Linked DNA regions of Homo sapiens. The protein of the gene in region 1 interacts with the protein of each later gene in a biochemical or structural test. Each region holds a gene or a part of one and is shown on either strand. Other genes may lie near its edges.

What was found.
Region 2: the proteins of ARHGAP17 (region 1) and BTK form a complex in vitro, tested with the Homo sapiens proteins (one study listed by BioGRID).
Region 3: the proteins of ARHGAP17 (region 1) and PACSIN1 form a complex in vitro, tested with the Homo sapiens proteins (one study listed by BioGRID).

What each region holds. Positions count from the first base shown.
Region 1 is NC_000016.10:25,004,666-25,012,985, forward strand, and holds part of ARHGAP17 (rho GTPase-activating protein 17), read right to left. Parts: intron 1-8,320. UniProt on the Homo sapiens protein: Rho GTPase-activating protein involved in the maintenance of tight junction by regulating the activity of CDC42, thereby playing a central role in apical polarity of epithelial cells.
Region 2 is NC_000023.11:101,369,192-101,376,191, reverse strand, and holds part of BTK (tyrosine-protein kinase BTK), read left to right. Parts: intron 1-877; coding exon of another isoform or gene 878-907; coding exon 908-1,048; intron 1,049-1,557; coding exon 1,558-1,656; intron 1,657-4,490; coding exon 4,491-4,559; intron 4,560-6,112; coding exon 6,113-6,194; intron 6,195-7,000. UniProt on the Homo sapiens protein: Non-receptor tyrosine kinase indispensable for B lymphocyte development, differentiation and signaling. Binding of antigen to the B-cell antigen receptor (BCR) triggers signaling that ultimately leads to B-cell activation.
Region 3 is NC_000006.12:34,469,076-34,476,075, reverse strand, and holds part of PACSIN1 (protein kinase C and casein kinase substrate in neurons protein 1), read right to left. Parts: intron 1-7,000. UniProt on the Homo sapiens protein: Plays a role in the reorganization of the microtubule cytoskeleton via its interaction with MAPT; this decreases microtubule stability and inhibits MAPT-induced microtubule polymerization.

The DNA.
Region 1 (8,320 bases):
ACCATGTGGAAGAACACTGAGTAACTACAGAAGAAATGCTAATGAAACATTAAAGGAGAGATCAAATTGACTACTAAACCAAAAGGTATCTCTGATAAGGAAGACGTCCAAAAAGAAGAGCTGTGGGAAAGGAGAGGAAGAGAGAAACATCTTGGGATAATCAAAAGGAAGTAGCCAATGCAAATAATCAATAAGCTGTAATTAACACAGAGGAAACACAGTCTCACAAGATGCATGGCTGAAATGAACTGAATATTGTTTGTTTTTGAGATGGAGTCTCACTCTGTTGCCCAGGCTGGAGTGCAGTGGTGCGATCTTGGCTCACTGCAACCTCGGCCTCCTGGGTCCAAGCCATTCTCCTGCCTCAGCCTCCTGAGTACCTGGGATTACAGGCGCCTGCCTGCCATGCCCAGCTAATTTTCGTATTTTTAGTAGAGATGGGGTTTTACCATATTGGTCAGGCTGGTCTCAAACTCGTGACCTCAGGAGATCCACCCGCCTTGGCCTCCCAAAGTGCTGGGATTACAGGCGTGAGCCACCATACCCAGCCTGAATATTGTTTTTATATCAAACATGCCTATTATTTTATTTGCTATAAATAATAGGCTCTACCTATTTAAAAGACAGTTTCTTATAGAAATCTTAGATTTTTTATAGAATCAGCTTTATCTTCTGAAACTTGTATTAAATCTGTACCTAGTCATGAATGTGCAAGGTTTCATCACTGTATCTGTTGAGGAACATATCTATGAACAAGAATGCTAACTTGTTTATATTAAAGTACATAAATACATCAAAGAATGGCATTAAGATTTCATTAACAGCACCTAAGATCTGCTAGAATAGATAAAACTGGTTACATTCAGATTATCTGTTTGTAGCTCTGTCTCCACATTCAAGTCCCCAGGGATCAATTATATTTTTAACCCCAGCCCCTATCATTTGACAGGTTCTCAAGAGACATTTGTTGAACTAAATTGGTAACTGAGCAATGAAACTGATAACTAAACGTTAATTCCATGACAAACAAATGACACATACAGAGAAAACTCATATAAAGAAATACAAATGTAAGAACACATTCATTTTGAACTTAGTGGAAAAAATTTAAATAGATAACAAATTTTTTAAGGACAATATCTAATGCAACTAAGGTGATGGTGAAATGTGATATTCATCATGTCATGCATAATGACACACATTATTGCGCAACATCACTTTCTGCACTACAAACTAAATGACGGCATTATCATCTTAGGAGACAACCTGGCAATACTGTCATGATATAAACATTAATTTCCTATAAATCTAGTGATTCTAACCTCTAGAGAATTCATCATGAAAAAGTAATTTAGAGGTGAGCAGCTATAATCATTAAAATGGTGACCGACCATGTCAAACAGAAGGTTGGGGAATTGTAGATACAATCCAGCTCAAGCCAGCTCAAGGCAGCAAAGCCAACTGGAAGACAAATTTGACTCCAAGTGAAAAATAATGAGCACCTAATTAAGGTAACAGGAAGGATGGCCTCTGGGAAGCAAAGATGAAGTCAACAGATAATCAAGGTCAGTTCCAGACCAGCCTGGCCAACATGGTGAAACTCTGTCTCTACTAAAAATTAAAAAAAAAAAAAAATTAGCCGGACATGGTGGTGTGCGCCTGTAGTCCCAGCTACTCAGGAGGCTGAGACAGGAGAATCGCTTGAACCCGGGAGACAGAGGTTGCAGTGAGCCGAGATCATGCCACTGCACTCCAGACTGAGTGACAGAGAGGGACTCCGTCTCAAAAAAAAAAAAAAAAAGAAAAAGATAATCAAAGAGGCAGAATTTCCAGTCTCCTCACCTGACTGAGATGATGGAGGAAAAAGAATGGGACTGACAGGTGACTAGGGAGGGTGTGAGGGCATTTAATGCCCTAGGGCAGGGGTCACATGCTTCTTATGAAGTGCCAGAGGATAAATACCATAGGCGTTGCAGGCCATATGGGTCACTGTTGCAACTATTCAACCCTGCCACTGTAGTGAGTGGCTGTGTTCCAGTAAACTTTTTCACAAAGCAAGCGGTGGGCTGGATTTACCCTGCAGGCCAAAGTCTCGTGACTCACAGACTAGAAGATAGAGGGAAATGAAGCCAATTTGAGGAAGAAGTTCATGGGTTCAATTTTATCAGGCCATGTCAGCAGAGATTTTTCAAGAGAGAGATGATAGCATCATTCTAGGGATAAAGAGACCCCAGGGCTGGAGGCATAAAACTGTCACCATGAGGTGATAGTTATGGGGCTGAGATCACCCAGGGGAACGGTCTGAGAAGAAAGGAGATCGAGGACATTTCTCTGTCGCAATATAACAGTGAATACCCAATGTTACTTCAGATCACTATGGCCCTGGAAAGGAATGAACATTACAATCTAACCTCTTTTAACTCCTACTTTTTAAAAAGAGGGCTCCTATTTTTGAAGTGGGGCTTTCAGTCCCTTTTCCAAGATAAATAAGTTTAAAGTTTCAAATTTACAGATGAAAATTTCCTAATGGCTAGAAAATAAGGCAATGCTAAAATAAAGTGCTTATCAACTTCTTTAGATTTTTATTATGAAATATTTTATGTGCAAAGAACATATAGTGTGTATGTAAAGCATAATGAATAACAATAAAGCAAATGCACCCATCCATATCTCAAGAAAGTAGTTCATTACGAATGCCACTGACAAATTACTTATTTAGAGACAGGGTCTCACTCCATCACCCAGGCTGGAGCACGGTGGCAGGATCACAGTTCACTGCAGCCTCGACCTCCCAGGCTCAAGCGATCCTCCCACCTGAGCCTCCCAAGTAGCTGGGGACTACATGCACATGCTACCATGCCTGGCTAAACTTTTTGCGTGTGTAGAGACAGGATCTTGCTATGTTGCTCAGGCTGGTCTCAAACTCCTGGTCTCAAGTGATCCTCCCACCTCAGCCTCCCAAAATGCTGAGATTACAAGCATGGGCCACTGCACCCGGCTCACTGACAACTTTTCATACCACAAGCATTAGTCTCTAAACTACAAATGAAAGCAGGCAGCCCACAGCCAGATAATGCTTTCAGATGTTTTCTTTGGCCAACAGTGGGTTTTTTTCTTTTTAGTTGCCAACATTTAAATATCAAGAAACTTCACATGAAAATCAGCATTCTGGAGTATCATCAAAAATGGAAGATGTAGCTTCACTACTCCCACGTTCACCATGGCAACAAGTGGCTAGAACTGAAGAGCAGCTCTCCCCTTTGAATGAACATGTATTCACCAGTTCACTGCAGTCCCCACATTCCCTACTGTCCTATACCCGCCTCCCATTTCACTTATTTATTTTACCCAACCTGGCACTTCGGTTTGTGACCCCTGCTTATGTGATTGTGGTTTCCAACCTTTGGGAATATGGGAAATATTATTTACAGTAAAAAAATTTAACAGACTCTCAATAGGTATATAACTAAAAGTAAGACAAGTCCACAATCCCTATCACCATTTTGTAATCCAAAAAGTTCTAAAAAACAAATCTTTTTTTGTAACTTATTTGGCAATAAAAGTTGACCTGAACTGATATTAAACTATGCATAATCTTCATGCATATCCATTCAGTGGGAATATATGTATATATATTTTGCTATACTAATGTTTGATTATGGGATTTTGTCCCAGACCCCACTGGAAGTATTACATAACAACAATATATGCATATTATTACTTTTAGAAAAATCTGAAAAATTCTGAATTCTAAAACTTATCTGGCCCAATGATTCCAGATAAGGGACTGTGGGCCTATTACACTTTTAATCCCTACCTTTAAGAAAATACAAACACAGCGAACAGATGAGAGTTTAACATTTTTACATGGATTTGTACTTCACTAGTTACTACAGCATCTACCTACACTTGAGAAACTGAAATAGAATGATAAAGGTGAAACATCCTGTGGTCTGACAAAAATGCACGGTGCACGTACTGACTGCAGCGCCCTAGGCCATAATCAAACTTGGAAGGTTTTGCCTCGTCCACTCTGCTACAAAGGCAATTCCATAATAGCGTAACATGCCGCTTACACATATAAAAATGATGCTAAATGAACATATCCTTTTATGGTTCAAATTTACAGATGAAAATTTTCTACTGGTTCATCATTTTTATGGTTTTAGAGTTCATTTCTTCCCCCCAGTAAAGAATGGATTTTCACTCAACTATAAATACTTCTGGATTTCTTAACATGTAAACTACATAATAAGGCCATAAAAGATGAGATTGAGAAGCTGCTGCAACGACAAGAGGACCTCTTTCCACCCTGCTCTATGGAGAGGTTGATGGAATCCACTCAGATTGAAGCAAAGCACACATTACCTATCCCTTCTCAGAAATACTGTTCAGAGTTCCCCTAGAAAAGGCAGAGTGGGCAGGCGTGGTGGCTCACGCCTGTAACCCCAGCACTTTGGGAGGCCAAGGTGGGTGGATCACCTGAGGTCAGGGGTTCAAGACCAGCCTGGCCAACATGGCAAAACTCCATCTCTACTAAAAAATACAAAAATTAGCCAGGCTTGGTGGCTCATGCCTGTAAGCCCAGCTACTCGGGAGGCTGAGGAAGGAGAATCGCTTGAACCCAGGAGGTGGAGGTTGCAGTGAGTCGAGATTGTACCACTGCACTCCAGTCTGGGCGGCAGAGCGAGACTCCGTCAAAAAAAAAAAAAAAAGGGTGGGGGGAAGGAAAGGTAGAGTGAAGATCAGTGGGAGGAAAAGGACACAGTGGAGTGGGTGAGGGATGCAGAATGTTACTGCTGGCAACGTAAGGATAAGGTTTGTGATCATCAAATACAGGCAGGGCTGACTCAGGGAAGAGAGATGAGATTCATTCAATTCGGCAGCAGGGGACTGTTCTGGGATCAGTAGGTAGAGACACATTTTGACTCAGTGTGAGAATTCACATTGCTGGTAGTGGATCCAACTACCTAGTGAGTGGTCCATTCTACATACCTCCTAGGAGTGGAAGACTCCTAGAGGTCATTAGATCTCTGTGATCAGAATTTATAGCTGCTGCAGAATCAGAAACCTGGGTTTGGGTCCACGGCTCTGTCTCTTGCGAGCTTGATGACCTCTTTGATCTCTGGCTTCCTCATCATTAAATCAGAAATAAGTAACATCACCTCAGAGGGTGGCTATGAGAATGCAATGAAATAAAAGTATGCAAAGCACCAAGCCCAGCAGCTTCATAAGCACAGAAGATGTTTAATAAACATTAATAAACACTAATCCTTCCCTGGTGAAGAGGCAGCCCAGTTCCTGTACTCAAAAGCACTTGGGAACCACAGGAAGAGGCCCTGGACCCAAGCCATGCCTCAGCCACTACTCAGTAACTGTGCAAACTTAGAAAGTCAGGTTTCTTCCTCTTTTTTTTCTTTTTTTTTTTGAGACAGGGTCTTGCTCTGTCACCCAGACTGGAGTGCAGTGGCATGATCTCAGCTCACTGCAGCCTCGACTTTCCAGGCTCAGTTGATCCTCCCACCTCAGCCTCCCAAGCAGCTGAGACAGGCAAACACCACCACTCCTGGCTAGTTTTCTGTATTTTTTGTAAAGACCGGGTTTCACCATGTTGCTCAGGCTGGTCTGAAATTCCTGGGTTCAAGTGATCCTCCTACCTCGGGCTCTCAAAGTGTCAGGATTACAGGCGTGAGCCACCCCACCCCACCCAGCCAGGTTTCCATCTTTGTCAGAGAGAAGTTATCATTGTCAGGAGACGAAATCCAAGCCAGGTGGTTTAGTACAGCACTTTGTAAACTAAACCACCATAGAAATGTTATAGACTGTTACTATCAGACCTTTTCAAGATTTTAGTAAAGAAAGGATGAGCTGTTTTTCAACAAATCCAAAGAACTGAAAACATCAGGGTAAGGTACAGGGGAATAAATGAAAAAGAGGGACTGTCAATTTCTGAGTCCTTCTAGACAAGCAGTTGGGTGATCCACAGAAATATTTTGTTCAGCTGCATATAGTGTCCCCGTAGTTTAATTTGGATTAAACGCCAGCTAGTTAAAATGCAGATTTCAGGAAAACTCCACAGGTGGTCCACACTGGGCCTACATTACCACAGCAGCCCCTTTGGTGGGACACAGTCCTCCAGGTCCCCTGAGGCCTTCACATGGCCCAAAGCACTGATTCATTTTACTGGCCTCGCCCTCTAGGCATTTGGGTTTACAACCTTGGGTTCTCAAAAAACAACTATCTGTGAAAGCATTCAGACCTCCAAGGGAAACTTCAGTCAGGGAAGAAATCAACACCCAAGGAGACACTCCCTATCAGAGCCTCAGTACTATGCTCTCCTAGTTGTCTCTCAAATTTTTTTTCTCCTTGATACTTCTGTAACTTCAAGGTCTTCATCCCAGTGTACTCCTTCCTCTACTCAAGACATCATCTCCCCAAAAACACCATTGGTGATGATCTGCATCTAAGGGTTTTCAAGAAACAAAACATCTCTCTTTTTAGCAGGGCTACAAAAGACACACCATGACCTTTATTTCTTGCCTGATTACCACCCATTACCATCCACTCTCAGTCCATATGGTTTGGGTGCGCTGACTCCAGTCCATTTCTGGGGAAAGGCATGTGACCCAGAAGCATTCAGAGCCAATCCTGGGACTCGGGCCACAGTGACTGCGAGATGAGTATTCTTTCCCTCTGAGACTTGGAAGATGTGGAAGTCTCCCAGTGGACACAGTGCCTACCTAAAGAGTGGAACCGAGGCCAGGCGCAGTGGCTCATGCCTGTAATCCCAGCACTTTGGGAGGCCAAGGTGGGCAGATCATCTGAGGGCAGGAGTTTGAGACCAGCCTGGCCAACATGGCAAAACCACATCTCTACTGAAAATACAAAAATCAGTCGGGCATGGTGGTACAGGCCTGTAGTCCCAGCTACTTGGGAGGCTGAGACGGGAGAATTGCTTGAACCTAGGAGGTGGAGGCTGCAGTGAGCCGCGCCACTACACTCCAACCTGGGTGACAGAGCCAGACTCCGTCTCAAAAAAAAAAAAAAAGAGTGGAACCCCCAGAAGAAGCCAAATCTGCAGCCACACTACTTATTAGAGGCTCTTTTGGTCACTTATGAGCCAATCAATTCCCGTCTTTGCTATGAACTGGGTTTTCTTACAACCAAAAGAGACCTAATCAATACAAGAGATATTTGAAATAAGGGCTTGAAAATGAAGGCAGAGAAAGGTGCTCAGATTTTCTCCTCTGGGAAGCTTTTGTTACCTCCCTCAATCCAATGACAGCTGGGTTTTGCTCTGTGCATTAGCCATCCCTCTTAAGCACTTATCTCATGTATATAATTATTTTTTGCCTGCCTACCTCTTCCACGTATCTCCTGAGCTCCCTCAGGGCAGAAACCATGCCCGTATTCACCTTTGATTCTTTAATACCCTGGATAACAGGACACAGTGTAGGCTCAACAAGTGTCTGTTGAATGCATGAATCAACAAAAGGCAGGTGGACTAAAAGAACCATCCTACTTCTCTTCTTTGGGACACTCACACCATGAGACCACCTCATAAGCCTTGCCCCTGTGAGTTTCAGGCCGTCTTCTCAAATAGACTTACCCACCCATCGTAAACAAACTGCATCATGCGAACTCATTCCTTCCAGGCATTACTAATTCTCTACAAGTCCCTCCCCTGGAACCTTACAGTGAAAGTACTCAAAGGTCTCCCTTCTGAGGAGAATATCTCACTGCAAGACACCACCTAGAATTCCACAAATTGATAAACCAAAACACGATGGGCATGACATTCACATATATAACTTCCTTCTCCACCTAGATCGCAGGGGCGAAAACAAAAAAACCCTTTGCTTTGTAGCCTTCATCTTGACCTAAAAACACCCAGAATCCTGATTCTGGGGCCAACCAACCACCTACTTCCAAGCAGTAACAATTCTAGGCACTCTCCAGCCTCCGTTTATCTTCCTTAGTCCTTTCTGATTACTTAAGCAGAAAACACATACACACACACATCTAGGAAATCAACAGCAAGGAAGCAACAGGTTTCCCAGTTAAAAACAGATGTTCTGACTTTGGGTGCATAATTGCCACACCCTTAATAGTTCTGTAATAGCTTCAGCTTCCACTGGCATCTAGCAATAAAGATTTTTAAAGACAGTCAAAGGTCAGGCCCAGAATTACAGCTCCAGCATGAATCACCATCTACTCTATCCACTTCATGTTTTCCCATACTCGGGCCCACACCACCAAGGCGATCTAGTAAGAACTCAAATACCAGAATTAACAATGTCTACTGCACCCTGGCCATGGG
Region 2 (7,000 bases), on another chromosome or scaffold:
AACTTTATTTGTCTTTCTGTGTTTCAGTTACCTAAATTGAATCCTTCTGGAGTATTGTAGGTTTGGGGAGGCTAAATAAGTTGTGTTTCATAAATGAACAGAGGTGGCATCTATATCAGTAAGACAGTTGCATCACTTTTGCATGATGCTGTCTAAAAGAACTAATTTAAGCTAAATGGGGAAAAGGTCAGAAAACAACAACTACCCCCCCCCCACCAAAACCCACCAAAAAAAATTATGTTTTCAACTTTAGAACAAATCTTCTATCCTTTGTAGCTCAGTCAGTGGGTGTGGGCAAAATCAGTTGGGCAGCAGTTAGTGTGTGTCCAGAACTGCAGGTGCAGCCTCCATATCCTTATTAGTTCCCTTGGTTACAGACCCCAGTGGGACAATGTTTGAAAAATTATATTCACCGTCTAGGAAATTGGGAACTGAAAGTCCAATATCTGCCTCAGTGGAGTTCTGGCACCTGCATTATCCCTTCTGGGTATATCAAGATCAACAGCTGCACAGATACTTTTGCTTTTCACAGATTCTACACATATCATATAAAGGTGAATAGTGTAAAGCTACCTCTACACCTTACCAAGCACACAGGTGCGTGCCATTTAACATCTAGAGCATTCCATTGCCTTATACAAGAACTCAGTTTATATGAGCTCACAACATCGAACCAATCCCCCCCCAATTCAGTGTGCATCCATTATACCTGAAACCTGACAGAGCTGGGGGCTGTGGGAGGAGGTTGGTAGGAAGAAATTATTTTGTGAGCTGTGCACATTTTTGTTCCATTTGAAACTAGGTAGCTAGGCTGAGGGGGAACCAAGAGGGATGAGGATTAATGTCCTGGGTCCTCAGGAACTTTCATTATCAACAGCACACAGGTGAACTCCAGAAAGAAGAAGCTATGGCCGCAGTGATTCTGGAGAGCATCTTTCTGAAGCGATCCCAACAGAAAAAGAAAACATCACCTCTAAACTTCAAGAAGCGCCTGTTTCTCTTGACCGTGCACAAACTCTCCTACTATGAGTATGACTTTGAACGTGGGGTAAGTTTCTCGACTATGAAAACTGAGTTTCAAGATATCAAGGACTTGGCCTTAGATCTTTCTTGGGGAAGAGGTAAATTTTCGTTGGTAGGAGGAGGGGAGTAGAATGGACCTAAGTTCTTTCAAATTCAGCAAAATATTTCCTAGCCTATAACTAGCTAAAGCCGGAAAGTCAAAGGTCCTAAGAAGCCACAAGGAAAATATTACCATGGAATCTTGGAATTGATGAGCACTCATTAAATGATTGTTGAAAATGAAATCGAAGAGTTGGAAATTGCTTCCTTACTTCCTATGAGGAAGGTACATACAGTCATTCACTCTTCCATGGTATTTGCCCTCCATTTGGTAGTCATAGATTTATAGATCTGGAAGGATTTTTTTTTCTTCCCCCACATGACAGGTCCTGGTGCCACCTCACTTTGTTGAATGATTAGATAACAAAATCTAATCATCTGGTTGCTTAATCCCTCTTAATCTTTCTCCATTTTCTTCCTCATTCTACTTCTCAGAGAAGAGGCAGTAAGAAGGGTTCAATAGATGTTGAGAAGATCACTTGTGTTGAAACAGTGGTTCCTGAAAAAAATCCTCCTCCAGAAAGACAGATTCCGGTAAGAAGAGACCAATGTCTGAGATGGGGAACAGCAGATTTGAAGAAATTTGCAACATTTAAATTCTCTGTAAATAGACTGGTGATGCTGTGCAACGTGGAACACGGTCAAGTTTCCTTTAAAAATTCTTCACTCTACCATATTGGTTATAAAGAATCTTAGCTTCTTTCCTTCATATTCAGAACATCTCACTAAACATGGAAAATTTGTTAACACAAACTTTTAAATGATGCTATATCTAGTTTTCAAACTGGTCAGAGATCATTGATTTTATTCCCTCAGTTCTCTCAGGATCAGATTTAGAGGCTTAAGTAAGTCTGAATGTCATAATCCTAGGGCTCTGAGTCACATGATATCCTTTAATACCTTACTATTTATTCTCTTCTCACTTTCCGGAGCGAGAGACATAAAACCTACTGATTTTTGAGTTCACTTTTAAAAAATATATATCAATTTCAGTATTTTCTTTTTTTCTTTTTTTTTTCTTTTTTTAGACAGAGTCTCGCTCTGTTGCCCAGGCTGGAATGCACTGGTGCCATCTTGGCTCACTGCAACCTTCACCTCCCGGGTTCAAGCAATTCTCATGCCTCAGCCTCCCAAGTAGCTGGGATTACAGGTGTGCACCACCATGCCTGGCTAATTTTTCGTATTTTTTTAGTAGAGACGGGGTTTCACCATGTTGGCCAGGCTGGTCTTGAACTCCTGGCCTCAAGTGATCCGCCTGTCTCGGCCTCCCAAAGTGCAAAGATTACAGGCGTGAGCCACCCACTGGGTCTGACCATTTTCAGTATTTTCTTGATCACAGGAGAATTGCGTATTTATTACAGAAACTCTGGAATATATAAAAAATACAAAAAGATTAAAATGATGCATAATCCTGTTACCCAGTTAAAACAACTATCAACATATTGGTGTACATAGACTTACAGATGTTTTTCTTCACTGAGAACACATACGCATACACTTATATATATGTCATATATTTAAAACATAGACTCATAGTACACATCTTGCTTTGTAACGTACTTTTTCAATGTAACGATATGTGGGAAACTTTTCCCCATGACAATAGATATTCTTTAATAACATGATTTTAATGACTGTATGGTATTCCCTATTATGGATGTATTGTAATTTGTTTAATCTCCCATTATTACACATTCGGTTTGTCTACAAGTACTTGATAGTATAAACCATGTTGAGAGGAACAATCTTGCATACATCTTTCTGTACTTTTTTTATTCTTTTCCTTATGATAATTTCCTAGAAGTAAAATTTTGTTCTTCTCTTTAAGAAAATCTGTGCACTTTGGTTATTTTTATCTTTTTATTTCATTTTCTAGAAGTGGAATTGAATTTCATACACACCTACAAGCTATGTATGAGAGTGCCTGTTTCTGTACATTTTTTCCAACACTAGATATTTTGTTATTTTTATTATTATTATTATTTTCTGAGATGGAGTCTCGCTGTGTCGCCCAGGCTGGAGTGCAGTGGTGCGATCTCCGCTCACTGTAACCTCTGCCTCCGGTTCAAGTGATTCTCCTGCCCCAGCCTCCTGAGTAGCTGGGACTACAGGCGCCCACCACCACACCCTGCTAATTTTTGTATTTTTAGTAGAGATGGGGTTTCACCAGATTGGTCAGGCTGATCTCAAACTCCTGACCTCAAGTGATCCTCCCACCTCGGCCTCCCAAAGTGCTGGGATTACAGGCGTGAGCCACTGTGCCCAGCCCAACACTAGATATTTTAAATATTAGTTAATTTGACAGCCAAGAAAAATAGCATTTCAGGTGGGGCGTGGTGGCTCACGCCTGTAATCCCAGCACTTTGGGAGGCCAAGGCAGGCGGATCATGAGCAGGAGTTCGAGACCAGCCTGACCAACATGGTGAAACCCCGTCTCTACTAAAAATACAAAAATTAGCTGGGCATGGTGGCGCGAGCCTGTAATCCCAGCTACTCGGGAGGCTGAGGCAGGAGACTCCCTTGAACCCAGGAGGCGGAGGTTGCAGTGAGCCGAGATCGCACCACTGCACATCCAGGCTGGACGACAGAGCAAGACTCCGTCTCAAAAAAAAAAAATAGCATTTTATTGCTAACTTATTTTGCAATTTCTTTTACTCATAAAGTTGGTCTACTGCTCATTTATATTTTATTTGTGAATTGCCCATTAATTTTTGGTCCATTTTTTACATTGAGATGTTTACCTCATTTCTAATACTTTTAAAGAGATCTTGATATAAGAACATTTATCCTTTAACTGTAAAGTATGTTGAAAATGTTTTTCAGTTTATCCTTTATCTTTCAATTTTGTTTATGATGCTTTTTGCCATATAGGGATTTAAAGTCTATGTCATCAAATTAGTTCAGGTTTTTCTTAATAGTTCTAAGTTTCATCCTTATATTAGAAAAAGCTTGCCTCCCACAGGATTATATAAATAATTGCTTATATTTACTCTCAGTCATTCATAGTTTTATTTTTTATATTAAGCTCTTGAATCCATCTGGAATTTTCTTTGGTGTATGGTGTAGCATAGCTACCTAACTCCTCTCCTCCCCACAACGTTAGTGGTTAAATATTTGTCCCAACAACAATTTTTTAGAAACCTCCATTTTCCCAGTGATTTGAAATACCTGAGTCTCTCTTGACTGGGTATGTGTTGGGTCGTATTGGATATGTGTCCCTATTGGCCTATAGAAAGTAATCACTAAGAATCAGCCTTGTCTGTGCAGGAGAAACTTCTGAAGCCACAGCAAAAGGCTTCTAGTACCTAAGGAAATTCAGAAAAGAGCAATGCATCAACCAATAACCATTTTTTCTTATTTCATTACAGAGAAGAGGTGAAGAGTCCAGTGAAATGGAGCAAATTTCAATCATTGAAAGGTTCCCTTATCCCTTCCAGGTGAGTTATTTTCTCTCACCAAATCTCGAAAGGCCCCTGTAACACAATTAGAAGGGGTGGTGGGGTGCAGGGCAGAGGGAAGGCTACGAGGACCCAGTGAATAGAAGTTGAGGTGGACAAGGATGCTGAACCAAGAAATGAGACTGGCATGGGCTAAGAATGTTTGCTTTTCTATTTACCTAATCTAACATAGTTTCTTTTAGTCTCTATACCTCAAAAAGAATACATAGCAGCACCAATTCTATCATAGTGTGTCTTGTCTATGATAACTGCATTGAGAAAGATGCTCTGCTTGTTGAGTGAGCATTTCACTTCCTTCTGGTTCTGACTATCTGTCTAATAGTGGTCATGTGGGTTGAAAAGATAGAAAAGGGGAGTAGTATTAGGAAGTTCAGTATGAGGAAGACTTATTAGACTTATGCATAAACCTAAATTCTGTTGTAATCTGGAAGAGCTGAAGTGCCACATATGCATCTGTTTAGGAGAGCAAGAACTACAAATTTGGTCTTCAGTTTGGCTTGCTTACATCCTGAGAACTCTGTAGGCCACATGTCGTGAATATAGCAGCCTCTGCAACAGTGAAAGCCAGAAAAGGAAGTGGAAAGTCTCAGGGGAGGGGGCTTTCTGTCATGGATTTATGAGCACAGCAAGACTAACAAGCAAAAAGAAAAATGTAAAAGGATCTTGTTCGTGTCCCTGACTATATCAAATTTACGAAACCTTTGAAAGAGGGGTATTTCAGACACAGTTTTTACTACCAATGCCTTTCAACAAGATGACATTGTTTGGCTGCACTAGTGAACAATGCTGAACAGCAGATAATTTTAAATTAATTTATATTTGACTTCAGAATTTATTATGTGATGTCTATAAACTCTGTGAGGGTTGGAACCACATCTTATATATTTCATGCATCTTCGTAACACCTAGCATGATGCCTTGTACATGGTTAAAAAAATACTATTTGACTTGATGATATTGCTTATTATATACCTTACCCTTTTTGAAGTAGGTTTGTAGTTCCAAATTTGATTTATTTTGGCTAATATTGGTGAGGGGAGGCCACTAGGTAGTGGAGGTGGAGGTAATTAGCCATGAATTAAAATTTTACTCCATATTATCCAAGTGAATAACCCATATGTACTAATCAAGACTTAATTTATATAGATTATCACTTCATTTCTCTTCTATACAAAGTCAGAATTTAATAATAAGATAAAATACCCTTTGTTGGATAAACAAAAATGTTATCTCCAGCAAGGGCAGACGGAGACCTTATAAAATAAGTTTATGCATGAATTGAAGCACAAGTCAGGAGGACCTAAGAGTATGAAAAATTCTAAGAGCTTTTAAACGCTACATTCCTAGATATGAAGAGTTCAGGAATCCTTCAGATAGTTCACATAACCTGAACACCATTGCTGACTGAAGATTCTGCCTTTCTTTGTTTTCTACAATAAATATACAAATTGTCCCCTAAGATTAGTACTTTCAAGGTCTTTCTCCTTTTTTCTGAATCCTAACTGCTGAAGTCTGTGTTTTCATCGACCCAGGTTGTATATGATGAAGGGCCTCTCTACGTCTTCTCCCCAACTGAAGAACTAAGGAAGCGGTGGATTCACCAGCTCAAAAACGGTGAGAATTATTTGGAAAATAAATGTTTCCAAAGAAAGAAGGAAAGGAAGGAAGAGGAGATAGACGGGAGGAAAAGGAAAGAAGGAAGAGAGAAACGAGAAAGAAAGAGAAAGGAGAAACGTAGAGAGAAAAGAAGAAAAAAATGGATAGAAGGGGAGAAAAGAAAGAGAGAGGGAGGGGAGGAGGGAGACAGGAAGGAAGGAAGCAAGGAAAGAAGGAAGGGGATGAGGGAGGAAAGAAAGACAAATAACAAAGAAACAAAGGAAAGTTTGTATTTTGTTTCAATATTAGTAATACAATTGAGCTTAGTATTCCATCATATGAATAAAAGATAAAATATTAGACTAAGAGTTTCCCAGTTCTATCACTATCTCTCTAGTGCAATTTTGTAATTTTAGGCACCTCCATTTCTCTATTTATTAAGAAAAGTCCCATTTTTTGCACTGAATACAAGGGTGGTGTGGCATTCAATGGTTATGCAATATTTAGAATCCTAAGTATAAAATACCTAGCTCCAAAAAATTAAATAGATGATGTATGAGAGTGCTTGAAGTCAGAGTCAGAGAACCTGGTTTCAAGCCCTCTTTTACCATTTACAAACTGGGTGATTTCTGGCAAGAAGGCCAACAAGCTTCTTTGATGCTCAGTTTCTTCTTCTCAAAGGAGAATAATGGTAATTCATGCCACATCTACCTCTGGGGTTGTTGTAAGGATCAAATGAAGTAATAATACATGTAAAAGCACATGGAAAACTGTAAATCACTGTATACGAAAGCACTGTACATCTCTTTGTTGTGGATAAATAT
Region 3 (7,000 bases), on another chromosome or scaffold:
TGAATGGCCTGGTGCCTAGTTCAGCACACAGCACACCACACGCAATACATATTCATTTAACATTCAAAAGGATGAATGCTTGAGAGTAAAACTACAAACCAGCAGCCACTAAGACGATTTGTCCGCTAATCAGAGGATCCTGAGTAAGAATTTGAGCTTAAATCTAACCCCTTCCTGGCTGTGCAACCTCAAGCAAGTCATTTCAGCCCTAAGAACCTCAGCTTCCTCCTCTAGGAAATGGGAATAATTATCATTAATAAATACCATCCCCACAGGCTTGTGGCAAGGCTCAAAGCAGAAATGGATATGGAAGTAGAGGGGGTACTGCCAGTGTCCTTCTATCAGGTGGGGTACCCATCTCTCAGCAGCTGTGGGTGCTGGCTGCTAGCAGCTCACAGCTGCCCCCTTCCCCTGAGAGCTGCCCTTGGCTTACAGGAGCTGCCTCATCTGGAGATGCAGGGGGAGGCTAGGCCCTTCCCCGGGAGCAGCTTGCAGACAATGACCACCAGCTAAGGGGCTACAAAGGCCTGGCCCCTTGTCTGGAGGAAGGTAACCCTGGGAGACTGGCTGTTCATAATCTAGAGCTCTCCGTGGGATCCTAGCTGTAAGCAAATCTTTTCCCGCTCTAATATGAGCATGCCTGCAATAAATCATTTGCCCGGGAATCCTTGTCTCAGCTCTGCTTCTAGAAGACCAGACTTGAGACAGGAAGTATTTTGTAAACAATGACACACTAGGCACAAATATGTGTTTTTTTAATTTTTTTTTTAATTTTAGGAAACATTGAAAGTAGAGGAGCTAGCAATGTGAGAGGAGGAGGCGGTCAGCTCTGTGGGCAGGGGTGAGGGGTAGGGGAAGCCCAGTCATGCTGCTCTGCCCCCACCCAAACCCTGCCTTCATGGAATGCTTGGGCAGGTAAGGGGGACAGACAAGAAACCAACAAGAGCATAATGTCAGGGATAAGTGCTATGAAGATGATAAAGTAGAATCAGGAGATGGGGGACAACGAGGGCTGTTTTTGATAAGGTGGTCTGGGAGGCCTCTCTGAGGGGGTGATGTGGGTGGAGATGTGAACATCATGAGCCATGTAGGCCTTTGGGGAAGAGAATTCCAGGCATAGGGAATAGGAGTGCAAAGGCCCTGGGGCAGGGTGTTTGATGGGTCCAAGAAATGACCTGGGGATCAGTGAGGCTAGGATGTATGAGAGAAGGTCTGAGGTATTGGGCAGCCGGATCACATGGGGTCTTGCAGGCAATTATAGGGCTTTTTTTTTTTTTTTTTTTTTCTGAGACAGAGTCTTGCTCTGTCACCCAGGCTGGATGCAGTGGTATGATCTCAGCTCACTGCAACCTCTGCCTCCCAGGTTTGAGGGATTCTCCTGCCTCAGGCTCCTGAGTAGCTGGGACTACAGGTGTGTGCCATCACACCTGGCTAATTTTTGTAATTTTAGTACAGATGGGGTTTCACCATGTTGGCCAGGCTGGTCTGAAACCCCTGACCTCAGGTGATCCACCTGCCTCGGCCTCCCAAAGTGCTGGGATTACAGGTGTGAGCCACTGCATCTAGCCTGTTATAGGATTCTGGGCTTTATTCTGAATGGGAGGGGAGTCATTGAAGAGCTTTAGCAGAGGAAGGATGTGATCTGATTTAAGTTTTAAAGGACCTTTGGCTGGTGAGGCAAGGACGGGGCAGGAAGACCAGGTAGAGGCTGCTGCAAAGATCTAGGAGAGGATAGTGGAGGCTCAGAAGGGAAGGCAGCAATGGAGGTGACAAGAAGTGGGTGGATTCTGGGTGTTTTGAATGTAGAATTGAAGGACTTGTTGATGACTAAATGAGGTGTCAGGGACAGACAAATGCAACTCCCAATTTACAGAGAGGACAGAAGAACATACTAAATAACACCACAGGGATGCAATCAACAAAATCCAGTCTGCAGGAAACACAGCAGGACAAACCACCTGCTTCCTCCCATAGATAAACTGCAAAAGAATAAGAAAAGATGGAGAGGAGAACTGTGGATTGAAAGAGACTAAGACATATCAACCAATCATAACGTGTGAACTTTACCTGGAACTTGATTTAAACAATTTAAAAAACAAAAAGACATGTCTGAGACAACAGGGAATGTGAATACTAAGTGAATATTTGACTATATAAAGGAATTAATACTTCTTAGGTATAATAATGGTATTGTGATTGTGTTAGAAAAAGTCCTTATCTTTTAGAGAAATATCTTGATTGAGATGAGATTGGACATGTGTTGGTATCTGTTGATGCTAAGCCATGAGTATATGACTGTTATATAACATTTTCTCTACTTCTGTAAATGCTTATAATATTTCACAATAAAAAGTTTGCAAATAAAAGACAGAAGAGGAAACAGAATCCAAGGGAGGGGGTTGAGTGGCCCTAGGCCCCTCAGTGAGTCAGTGTCAGGGCCAGGACCTCAGCCTGGACCCCCAACCCCCAGCCCTCCAGCCCTGCCTCGGCTGCCCCTCTTGTCCTCAGTGGCTGGTCAAGGCTAGACCCCGGGAACCCAGTGATGAAATGTGTGACCTCAGGGAAGGCCCAGATTAGGCAGAGTGGGGCTAAGGGATGCAGGGTCTTTGCCAGGCCCTGCAAGGAGAAGCAGCCCTGGGCCACCTGTCCCACAAGGTCCAATGAGGCTGATCATTTAAAGTGCCCTGCAGCAGCAATCCAAGCTGGCTGCCCCACCAGCCTCACGACCCATGTCCTCTCTCGTGTTCCTATGCTGATTTCCTCCCCAGCCCCTGAGACCACCACTCACATTCCAGCCTTTGCATCTTTGTCCCTGCTGTCACTCTGCCTGGAATGTACCCCCCCGCCCCCCGCCCCGTCTCTGGATCTGACCAGCCTTTCCTTCCAGGTCTGCCTTCTGCAGAAGACAACCCTCCTTCAGTCTTCCAGAACACACCTGCCTCCAGTCTCTGAGACAAGAGATTATCCCCATTCCTCGACGACAGGTGCTGAGGCAGAGAGGCTCACAAGCACAGCTTCTGGAGCCAGACTGCATGGCTGTGAATCTGGCTCAGCCACTTACTGTGTGACCTCAGGCAAGTCACTTAACTTCAGTTGCCCCATCTGTAAAATGGGGATAACCCCATGAGCTTACTAAGAGGACTAAATGAGTTATAAATATGGATAAACAAAAGAGCGCCTGGCACATGTCAGGGATCCCCGGCCCCTCCTTTGTGCCCCTACAAGACTCCCCAGTGCTACACAACCACCACTTTGCCAGATACCCCACTTCTGCCATACTCCTTCTACAGCCCTCCTGATACCCAGATGTTACCTTACCTTACCCCCTTTCCCATCCCGCCAGGTTTCAGGCACCACAGGCCTGGGAGGAGGGAGAGGGAATATAAGCCCATGAGGGGACCAGTTAGGAACCAACCACAGATAAAAACTCTCCAAACACACGTGGCAGCATGTGACTCACATGCCATCAGATTAAGGGGAATGGAGTTTACGTGCTCATTTTTTTAGGTTTCTAAGAAAAAAATTCCCAGTATCATCAAGTGCAGTTTTAATTGTTTTCTTCATGAGTAATGATATTTGTTTATAAAATGCAAACAGCACAGAATGGCTGAAATAAAGAGGACGCATTCTCCCTCCAGATCCCTGCGATAGGCCTCAGCCCAGAGGCAAGCTCTAATCACAATCAGGTATGCAGCCTTCTACACATTGTTATGTAAATATGAACAGAGAAGAACATATGTACATGTACTTTAAAAATTGTATCATACTACACACATTGTTCTTTTTTTTTTTTTTTTTTTTTTTGAGACAGAGTCTGGCTCTGTCTCCCAGGCTGGAGTGCAGTGGCCCGATCTCGGCTCACTTCAACCTCCGCCTCCTGGGCTCAAGCGATTCTCCTGCCTCAGCCTCCTGAGTAGCTGGGACTACAGGCGTCCTTCACCACACCCAGGTAATTTTTGTATTTTTAGTAGAGACAGGGGTTTCACCATATTGGCCAGGTTGGTCTCGAACTCCTGACCTTGACTACACACATTGTTCTACAAAGCCACTTGCTTTAACTTATCAGTACGTGATGACCATCTTTCCACACTGGTAATAAGCTCCGCCCCATCTTGTCTCAGTGTCCCCAAGCACCTAAAGTGGTGCCTGGCAGGCAGCGACATTCAGAGATCCATTGATTAAATCCCAGAACGAACAACTGCCCGAAATCACAGCGTACAAAGAGGTCTTGACTTTGTCACTGGTCCTCCTGACAGACATCTAGCTTTGCTACACTGACTGTCTCTGCCCAGCTAATCTTTGCACCCTGCTCAGAGTGTACCTGTGGAATAAGTCCCAAAAAGTGGAATTGCCAAGTCAAAACTGTGACCACTGTTGCCAAAAACACAGTGCTAACGTATGCTCCCCGACTGACGTGAGAGTTCTAGTTTCCCACGCCCTCCGCCAAATGAGAGCTTTCTTAGGAGGACTTTTATTTCTCAAATGGATTACCCCTATTTAGTGATTCCACCCTTGATCACCACATCTCCCTTTGTCCCACCTGCATAAATGAGAAAACTATTGTTTTATTATTTCTCAGCAGCACTAAGGAGCCAAAATCCACAAATAAGGGACTACTCTCTAGCCAGTATAGAAAGTTAACAGATGGGAAATTTGGAACATCTCACCTGTTTCTAAAAATGGATGTGTTAATGTTTTAAAACTGTCAACTTCAAACAAGTATCTATTGATTCTTCCCCCACACTCAAGAACAGAAAATTCTCACCCTCTCTCTCCACTCCTCCCTACCCCAGCCTACAGTGGCCACATTTAGTCAATAAAAATTCAGGGCCAGGCGCGGTGGCTCATGCCTGTAATCCCAGCACTTTGGGAGGCTGAGGCGGGCAGATCACTTGAGGTCAGGAGTTTGAGACCAGCCTGGCCAACATGGCGAAACCCCATCTCTACTAAAAATACAGAAAAATTAGCTGGGTGTGGTGGCCGGCACCTGTAATCTCAGCTACTCAGGAGGCTGAGGCAGGAGAATCACTTGAACCTGGGAGGCGGAGGTTGCAGTGAGCCTAGATCGCAGCCTTGCACTCAAGCCTGGGCGACAAGAGCAAAACTCCATCTCAAAAATAAATAAATAAAATAAAATAAAAATTCAGGACACCTAGTTAAATCTGAATTTCAGATAAATGACAAATACAGTTTTTTATTAAAAATATGTCCTATGCAATGTTTGGGACATACTTAGACTAAAAAACAACAAAAACACATTTGTTGTTTTTCTGAAATTTAAAATTACCTGAGTATGCTGCATTTTATATAGAAAGACTACCCTAGCCCCTACCCAGCATTTTAATATCAAGTTATTTTTAGCCTGGGCAACACAGTAAGACCCCATCTCTACAATAAAATTGAAAAATTAGCCAGGCATGGTAGCACTCAGCTACTCAGGAGGCTGAATGGGAGGATCCCTTGGGCCCGGGAGGTCGAGGCTGCAGTGAGCTATGATGGTGTCACTCACTCCAGCCTGGGTGACAGAGCAAGACCCTGCCTCTAAAAAGAAAATAATTATAACAATATCGAGTGATTTTAAAATAATAGCCAAGGTAGGCCAGGTGCGGTGGCTCACACCTGTAATCCCAGCACTTTGGGAGGCCGAGGCGGGTGGATCACGAGGTCAGGAGTTCAAGACCAGCCTGGCCAAGATAGTGAAACCCTGTCTTTACTAAAAATACAAAAATTAGCCGGGCGTGGTGGTGGGCGCCTGTAATCCCAGCTACTCAGGAGGCTGAGGCAGAGAATTGCTTGAACCCGGAGGTGGAGGTTGCAATGAGCCAAGATCGCGCCACTGCACTCCAGCCTGGGTAACAGAGTGAGACTCCGTCTCAAAAATAATAATAATAATAATAATAGCCAAGGCCTCCCCTGCCCTCCCAGTTTTCAGGTATCCTGCAGCCCCTCACACCCAAGGTTGAGGTCTTCAGAGACAGCACCCAGGGGAGGGTGGAGGGGAGCCCCCGACCCCAGTCTCCAGCCCAGCCCTCCCCTCCAGGCCACCCTGCCCCTGGCTGGAAACCAGCCACAAAGTGTCCCCAGCAGGTGGGTCTGAAGTGGCTAATAGGTTTTCTTCATTTGGCTTTCCAGTACATTCTAAATTGCTCCCCACAGACACGCTCCTTTTCTGGAAACGGCACCAGCAACTTCCCTGGCATTAGAGGTCCTGTCTCCCCAGAGCCAGCTGAGGCCAGGCTCCGGTTGATCTTGTCCCTTCAGCCCACCTCTGGGTTCCTCCCAACCCATCTTTCCTGGTGGTGAACACTACCTGTTGCCCCAGGGGGTGGGTGCTGTCAGCAGGCGACCTCAGTGGGCAGATGCTTCAGGGACTGCTGCTACCACAGAGCCACCTGCAGGAAGGCACACCCAAACCCTGTGCCTGATGGGCGCAGGATGCTGGGGTCTAGGGCCTGACTCTCACAGGCAAATGGACATGACCTGAAAGGCCACTCTAGCCCCAGGGCACCCTGTTGCCTGTTGGGCTGCATCAGAGTCCACTTCCCCTTCATCCAATCCCACTTCCTTCCCTGCTTTCCACAGTGAAGCTCCGGGACCCCTCCTCTACCTGCCTGCCAATCCTCACGGCTACTTCCTGGGACCCTGACCTGCCCGCCAAGTCCCCAGCCCAGACCTCCCCTCCGGTCCATCCTGCCCCTGGCTGGAAATCAGTTACGAAGTGCCCATGGTGGGTGGGTCTGATGTGGCTAATGGGCTTCCTTCATTCGGCTTTCTAGTACATTCTAAATTGCCCACAGCAAACCTATATTACTTTGGTAATAAGAAAAAATAATAAAAGCTATTTTTCTTTAAGAAAAATGTAAAACCAAACCAAGCAGCATCCTTCTTATCTGGTATACCCACTCGTCCCCCAACCCCTCCACCTGGTTCCCCAGGGAGGGCCCCCCAAATCAGTGAATGCCCCCACCCCTCATGTCCTCTCCTGTCCCTTCTGTCCTTC